Linked DNA regions of Homo sapiens. The protein of the gene in region 2 purifies or fractionates together with the protein of the main gene of each other region. This does not show direct contact. Each region holds a gene or a part of one and is shown on either strand. Other genes may lie near its edges.

Region 1 (3,500 bases), on a different chromosome or scaffold from region 2:
TCTCGCAGCCTTTTCAAATAGCATCTATCATTTTCCATACATGTTAAGCTAAAACATTTAGGAGCAGAAAAACTTGCACCAAATTATTTTACCACTTGGTAGGAGAGCTAAGATGTTGAAGGACTTGATCACTTAAGGCATCCATAGCTGTTTTTCTTGATACCCAATTGTTATACTCCTGAGGATTTTAACTTGAGACGTGGAACAGCTTTCTTTGGCCATCCATTGGGAGCTGAATCACATATCTACAACACTTTGAGAAAAAGTATTCTTCTTTCTTAAAGTTGTTTATAGAATTTTTTTTACCAACTATTTATAAATTAAATTGTTATTTAAAGACTAACTTGGAGAGGTTCCTAATTATCCAGACTACTAATGTACATTGGTTTTCTTTTGCAGAAGCTGAGTATCTATGGTGACTTGGAGTTTATGAATGAACAAAAGCTAAACAGATATCCAGCTTCTTCTCTTGTGGTTGTTAGATCTAAAACTGAAGATCATGAAGAAGCAGGGCCTCTACCTACAAAAGTGAATCTTGCTCATTCTGAAATTTAAGCATTTTTCTTTTAAAAGACAAGTGTAATAGACATCTAAAATTCCACTCCTCATAGAGCTTTTAAAATGGTTTCATTGGATATAGGCCTTAAGAAATCACTATAAAATGCAAATAAAGTTACTCAAATCTGTGAAGACTGTATTTGCTATAACTTTATTGGTATTGTTTTTGTAGTAATTTAAGAGGTGGATGTTTGGGATTGTATTATTATTTTACTAATATCTGTAGCTATTTTGTTTTTTGCTTTGGTTATTGTTTTTTTCCCTTTTCTTAGCTATGAGCTGATCATTGCTCCTTCTCACCTCCTGCCATGATACTGTCAGTTACCTTAGTTAACAAGCTGAATATTTAGTAGAAATGATGCTTCTGCTCAGGAATGGCCCACAAATCTGTAATTTGAAATTTAGCAGGAAATGACCTTTAATGACACTACATTTTCAGGAACTGAAATCATTAAAATTTTATTTGAATAATTATGTGCTGAAATTTGAGTATCTGATTTTTCTAGACCTTCCCTCCTATTCCTGCCCAACCTAGATAAGAATTATGAAATGTTCTGTGTTTATTGCTATTGCTTTATAATGTGATGGTCAGGGACCATTTTGATGCAAAACTGATCTCTCAGCAGTACATTTGATGTTATTTTGCACAGGCTATAGGTTTTTGTTTGATGAGTGTTTCCAAAGAACTATTTTTCTCTGTTAGATAGCATATCAAGTATAAGGTAAACATATTTTCAGAGAAAACTTCATTTTAACACTAAAAATTAGACTCTTGTGATACAGAATTAAGTATAAATTTTACTTGGCAAAAACTCGTTTTATTTTTACCTGCAATAATACAGAGCTTAATATTAGAATGATATCAGGTCATAATAATAATACACCAGAATCTTTTGAGATGGAATTTTGCTCTTGTTGCTGAGGCTGGAGTGCAATGGTATGATCTTGGCTCACTACAACCTCCACCTCTGAGGTTCAAGCGATTCTCCTGCCTCAGCCTCCCGAGTAGCTGGGATTACAGGCATGCGCCACCACACCTGGATAATTTTGTATTTTTAGTAGAGACGGGGTTTCACCAGGTTGGCCAGGCTGGTCTCGAACTCCTGACCTCAGGTGATCCACCCACTTAGGCCTTCCAAAGTGCTGGGATTACAGGCGTGAGTGACTGTGCCCAGCCTACACCAGAATTCTAATATGATTCACTGTTATTATGCCATAAAATATTAAAAACTTTGTAAAACAATACTTTCCTCAGTCACAGGGGCATTGCTGACAACTGCATCAGTGCTGTTTGACTAAAGAATAAGTTAGTCACTCCTCCTATGGCCTAGTCTTTAGCCTTCCTGAGTCCAAATGAAAAGCAGTTAACAGCTAATCAAGGAAGACTTTGGTCACAAAGTGTAGGTTTTTATTTTTAGTTTGTCTAGATTTGGATGATAGAAAGTTGTGAACACATCCAGATGGGGAAGAAAGGAGGAATTAGCCGTCATTGTCAAGCAGTCATTGTTTCTTTCTTCTTTTTGTTAGAAAACATGGGATAAAACGTGGGGACTCAGCCAGGCACAGTGGCTCACGCCTGTAATCCCAGCACTTTGGGAGGCCAAAGCAGGAGGATCACTTGAGGTCAGGAGTTCGAGACCAACCTGGGCAACATAGCAAGACCCTCTCTGTACAAAAAAATACAAACAAACATGGGGACTATATAAAACATGGGTAGTGGATAGGAGTTACCATTAAAAAAAAATAAAAAGCCCTGTTGTTTCGTCTCCCATCATTAGTGCATACTTAGTTTCCTTAGTCAGGCACAGGTTTAATTGTAATGCATCCAATGAAGCAAACAGAGAAACACAAAATGCTGCTGTCTCACAGGAATCAAAGAGCCCACTGTTAGAAAAGACCCTCCCTTATAAAAACAAAACAAAGAATTATCTAGATCACTTGGGGCCAGGAGTTCAACACCATCCTGGGCAATATAATGAGAATCCCATCTTTTTTTTTTTTTTTAAAGCAACTGTACAGTTGTCCTATATTCTCCACCTTCCCTTGGTTTCATTTCTCTTCGCTTCCTGAATGAGAAGTGCCTGAGATACCTTCATTTCTCTTGAAAGTATTGATCCAAGTTTAGACAAATATCTCCCCTCTTGTTGAGAGAATTCCTTATATGTGAAAATACCAAGACATTCTTGATATTTAGCAGGCACTCAAATATTTGTCTCCTCTTTTTTAGCATAATTAAGCCAGACTGATGTTTGCATTTGAGTATCATCAGCATGAGTAACCATTTTAATCTCTCTTCCCTTAACTACTTGTTCTACACTAGAGTCTAGGGTCAGGGTACGTACAGTGATAAAGATTGAGATAATGGGAAATATAGTCTTCTGTTTGGGAAGCTGGATTGTAGTGTTGATTTTCTGACTCCTTGTGGTAATTAAATTCTGAAGCACAGAATCTACTTTTGAGAAGAAATATTTTACTTTTGAAAAAAAATCCCCAAAATATATACAGCATAAAAATGTTTCCGATCTTGAAAATCCCAACCAAAGCAACAAAACTGAGCTTCCAAGCCCCTTCTCCTAAAGTAACAGTTTTGCCCTTCTTGGATGTGCCTAACTTTACTTAGCTCCTTGTTTCCATAAAACAGTCATAATCTTATTTCCTACCACACAGAAAGCATCTTGAGAATCTGGTCTTGGTCCTAGGCAAATTCTCAAGACCGTTGGGTCTCTGGTTCAAACCTCCCAGACTTCTAAGGTCTTTCTTGGCTCAGGTCCCTCATCTAAGAGACATGCTAATTCAGGCAATTACAAAAGCAGTACTAATCACCATAATGAATGATCTGGGCCTAGGTTCCAAGTTTTCTCACAAAACTTCATGGGCACCTTTCATTTGTGATATGTTTTGTAGTAAATCAGAAATTACTAGATGATCTGGTCAATCTTATC
Region 2 (4,030 bases):
GGCACACAGATAGTTGGTGACCAAACTGTCACTAAAACTCAGGTCTTGAGTTACTTCCCCCCTCTGAGCATGTTTCTTAGTCTGTGGAATGCACATAGTCTCTTCCTCACTGCATTCTTGGCTAAGGTGCACCCTGCACCCTTCTCTCTTCACTTCTCTTTGTTTCCTCTCGTAACCCTTTAACAGACGACTTGAGGCAGGAAGCGGGGACTCTGTTTCAGAGGTGGATACACCAAGATGTAGTGAGCAGTCTTTAGAAGAAAGAGAGTGGGCAGAACCCAGCCTTGCATGGCAAACCAGTGTCCAGGGCCCCCAGGGTAGTCACCCTTGGTCAGAGATGGGTATCAGAGAGGGGGTCCTGCAGCAGGGACAGCAAGGAAATCTGAAGACGCTCAGGAGGCAAGGATGGAATCAGGAATGCAGATCCGCGAGGGGACGCCCTGTGGGACTCTTGGAAAGGCAGCAGGCACCACACAAGAGCCAGTGGTTTCTCAGAGGTCAGCAAACTGCTGCTCAAGGGCCAAGTCTGGCCACACCCATGTGTGTTGTCTGTGGCCCTTTCATGCTACAGCTACACAACGGTCAAGTAGTATTGGGATTGTTGTGGCCCAAAAGCCAAAACTATTGATCATCTAGCCCCTTACAGAAAAAGGTTGCCAGCTCCTGCTTGAGCTGTCCACGGGCCTGAGTTCAAGTCAAGTGCTGCCCCTTTCTACCCAGGTAACCTTGGGCAAGCCATTTTTCACCTCAGAGCCCCATTTCTGCATCTGTACCCACAACAGGTTTGTTTTGAGAATTTCATAAACTCGTGTCTGTGACCGCATCCAGGCTAAGGAGCAGTTCAGTTGCTTCATGTGCTTGTCACTCCTCTGTGGAGGGAACCAGGGATGTGTAGCTTGATCGGTCCCTGGAGTGGCAGAAGGCAGGCTGCTGGGCAGGATAAAATTTTTGTCTTCCTGGAAAGGATGACTCACAGACCCATGTTTCTTTTCTTTTTTTTTTTTTTTTTTTTTTTCCAGATACTGGCTGACCAACAAAGTCCACATCAAAAGACCCACCACCGGCCTCTTGATGTATACCCTGGCCACACGTTTCTGCAAACAAATCTACCTCTACGGCTTCTGGCCCTTTCCGCTGGATCAGAACCAGAACCCAGTCAAGTACCACTATTATGACAGCCTCAAGTATGGCTACACCTCCCAGGCCAGCCCGCATACCATGCCCTTGGAGTTTAAGGCCCTCAAGAGCCTACATGAGCAGGGGGCTTTGAAACTGACTGTCGGCCAGTGCGATGGGGCCACGTAGGGTGGGCACCCCATGGGACTCAGTGGCTCACATTTCCTGCCAGCTACACCACAGGCAGATGGGAGTCGGGGTGGCACAAACAATAGAACAAGCAGGCTAGTGGTTTTCTTTGTTAAAGTGTAAAACAGTGACCAGAATATATATATCTATACCTGCATATATATATTGACCTGAGTATTTATAACTGTGTGGTGTTCATCTAGCATTAGGCAGATAGGCCACAGGAAGAAGGTGTGGAGAACCCACCTGAACCAGATTGAGACTCAATCCATCTTTGGGGGTGGAAGGACTTGACATGAAAAGAAGCCAGTCCCATGACTTTGGATGACAAACTGCCTCCTGGCTTGGAGGGATCTTTGGGCTCATGGATGAATGGCGAGCCACCTGTTGTCAGCTGCCCCAAGCCTCTGGGATATGTGGATTCGGAGAAAGCTGAGGCCCAGAGGGGACACTCGACCCAGTCTAAAGTGGGTGCCATTCACGGAGGAGAGGGAGGTTGGAGACTTCAACCGGGCAAAGGAGCACAAGGAAACCAAGCAGCAGAGGCCCCATCAGCACAGAGGGCCTCGTTCCACGAACGTAGAGTTTGACTGCCTAAGGGACAGCACGAATGACTCACATGTTTCAGACAGGCCTCCACGGCTATGGAGAGAAGGCTGGAGGAGACACAATGGATGGTTCATGTTCTGGCTTAGCAAGAGCCACCAAGAACTTTGGGTGAAGCAAGCAGATGACAATGAAGAGGAGTAATGTTCCGAATCATGTTTTTGAAAAATCAAGACCTCCTGTTAAGGGCCCACTTGACCCTAGAATAAGGCAGGAGAGTGTCTAAAATCTAGCTGCTTTGGGTGTTTTTTAAAGCAATGTGAGTCCACTGAGGAGGAAGAGACCCTGGGATTTCACCCTCTGGGTTAGTCTCTGTCTCACCCTGTTAGAATGTCACGAGGGACTGTACTGTCCCCTCTGTCACCAGGGAAGCCACAATGAGAGCTTGAAAGGGTGCTGTCAAGATAAATGTCATCCTTCTTAAAATACATATGATTGCCTTTTTGGGTGCCTCACAGAGCCCCAGAGTGTGAGACCTGAAAGAATGTTCAGCATCTAGCTCCATGTCCCTGCAACCACTCTCTGTTTGCCTTCTGCATTCTGCACTCTGCGGGGCCTTTGCAGCCAGACTGCTGTGTCAATGTTACTTTCTTGTCACTTTCCTACCCTGATGGTCACACTAGCCCACCCCAAGCTCCGACATTGAGGTTTTCATCTCTGCAGGGAGAGGTTCCAATGTCCACCCCACCCCCAGGTACCCGCCTCTTCCCACAGAAGCAATTTTAGAATTTTGCAAAATTCTTTTCCCCTTATTGAGATTAATATTTAAGATTAAAAAAAAAATACCCAAAGCCAAATGCAGTTCCAAATAGTGGACATAATCTCCCAGGGAAATCTGGGCTCGAGGCCTACAACTTAGGGGCTGGAATCACAGGTCTCACATAGAGAAATAGCCAGCTTGAATTTGTTAGTCGTATTCCTTCACCTGATGAATAACAGTGTTTTAAAACATATTTGAAAGGTAAGTAAAAAACTACCATCTTGAAGGTGAAGGGAGTTAAGAAAAGTAATCAAGACCTGCTCCTAAGCATATGAGACCAGATGTAATTAATCAATGGCAATGCAGAACAGGACCTTGGCTCTAAATTAATGGTTGACCGGAAGGGATTGGAGGCGGCAGAACCATTAACCCTACACAAGAACACTCCAGCCCAAAACCGTGAGGAAGGTGATATATCTCTGCATTTTCCCTTGTTGTTGCTTGAAGTCTGTGATTGGGGATTTGCGTTATAAAATGAATATTTTAAAAAGCAACAGCCCTAATAGCCTCTGTGGGAACTGAGTGGTTTCGGACTCCTCACAGGCGGTGGAAATAATTAATACCATATTTTATACATCTCCAGAGCCTTTCATCTTGAGGATCTCAAAGACCGTAGAAGACATTTAATTTCTAAAGCTTGAAGTGCCCCGAGGAGCAGGTAGAATTTCCAGCAGGGCCTTGGTGGATTAACCAAGGCCTTGGATTCCAGAATGTTTCATGGTAAGCACTGTGGAGAACCTACATGTCAGGTTCTGGAGTTGGCCCTGAGCTCTATCCACCAAGCCAGCACCCCACCATCCCTTTGCAGGGGAGTCAAAGGGCCAGAACTCCTTGGGGGACCAGAACATGGTTTTCCTTCTGCCTATCTTAGTCATGGCTCCTAAAATTGAAGCTGATATGAGCTGGAGTGCAAGGAGTCCTTCCACCCTGCCTTCAGGTTCTCTCTGGAGAAAGGTTAGAGACCCCAGGACAATCAACATGTGCACCGTTCCCCTCCTCGGCTTGAGTCCTGCACTACCAAAATGGCCTGGCCATTTGATGGCGGAGCTCCAGGGGCCTTGGCTTTCTCTGGCTCATTGTCCTTCTCCATCTGGGCCAATTGTCCTTCCCTGCCCATTCAGAGTTCAATTTGAGCCTCCACTGCAGTTCCTGGTGTGGGCCAGCTGGTGTTGGGTGGCCCCAGGGAGTCACACAGTCTGTACCCGGCCCCGAGATCCTCTGCTGTAACTGCAGGGTCACAGGCATCCCGGGAGAATGGGCCTCCACCCTCAGCCAGCCCTCACTGCTGACAGGCACCCCTCTGTCACCTCCTGCCACCTGTCAGATACCCAGCCTGCCCGCCATCAGCCACCCGAGTGG

What was found.
Region 1: the proteins of ST8SIA2 (region 2) and TMEM59 purify together in Homo sapiens (affinity purification with mass spectrometry; one large-scale study listed by BioGRID and IntAct). This does not show direct contact.

Annotation. Positions count from the first base shown.
Region 1 is NC_000001.11:54,029,205-54,032,704, reverse strand, and holds part of TMEM59 (transmembrane protein 59 isoform 2 precursor), read left to right. Parts: intron 1-399; coding exon 400-555; 3' UTR 556-3,500.
Region 2 is NC_000015.10:92,463,081-92,467,110, forward strand, and holds part of ST8SIA2 (alpha-2,8-sialyltransferase 8B isoform 1 precursor), read left to right. Parts: intron 1-1,019; coding exon 1,020-1,305; 3' UTR 1,306-4,030. UniProt on the Homo sapiens protein: Catalyzes the transfer of a sialic acid from a CMP-linked sialic acid donor onto a terminal alpha-2,3-, alpha-2,6-, or alpha-2,8-linked sialic acid of an N-linked glycan acceptor through alpha-2,8-linkages.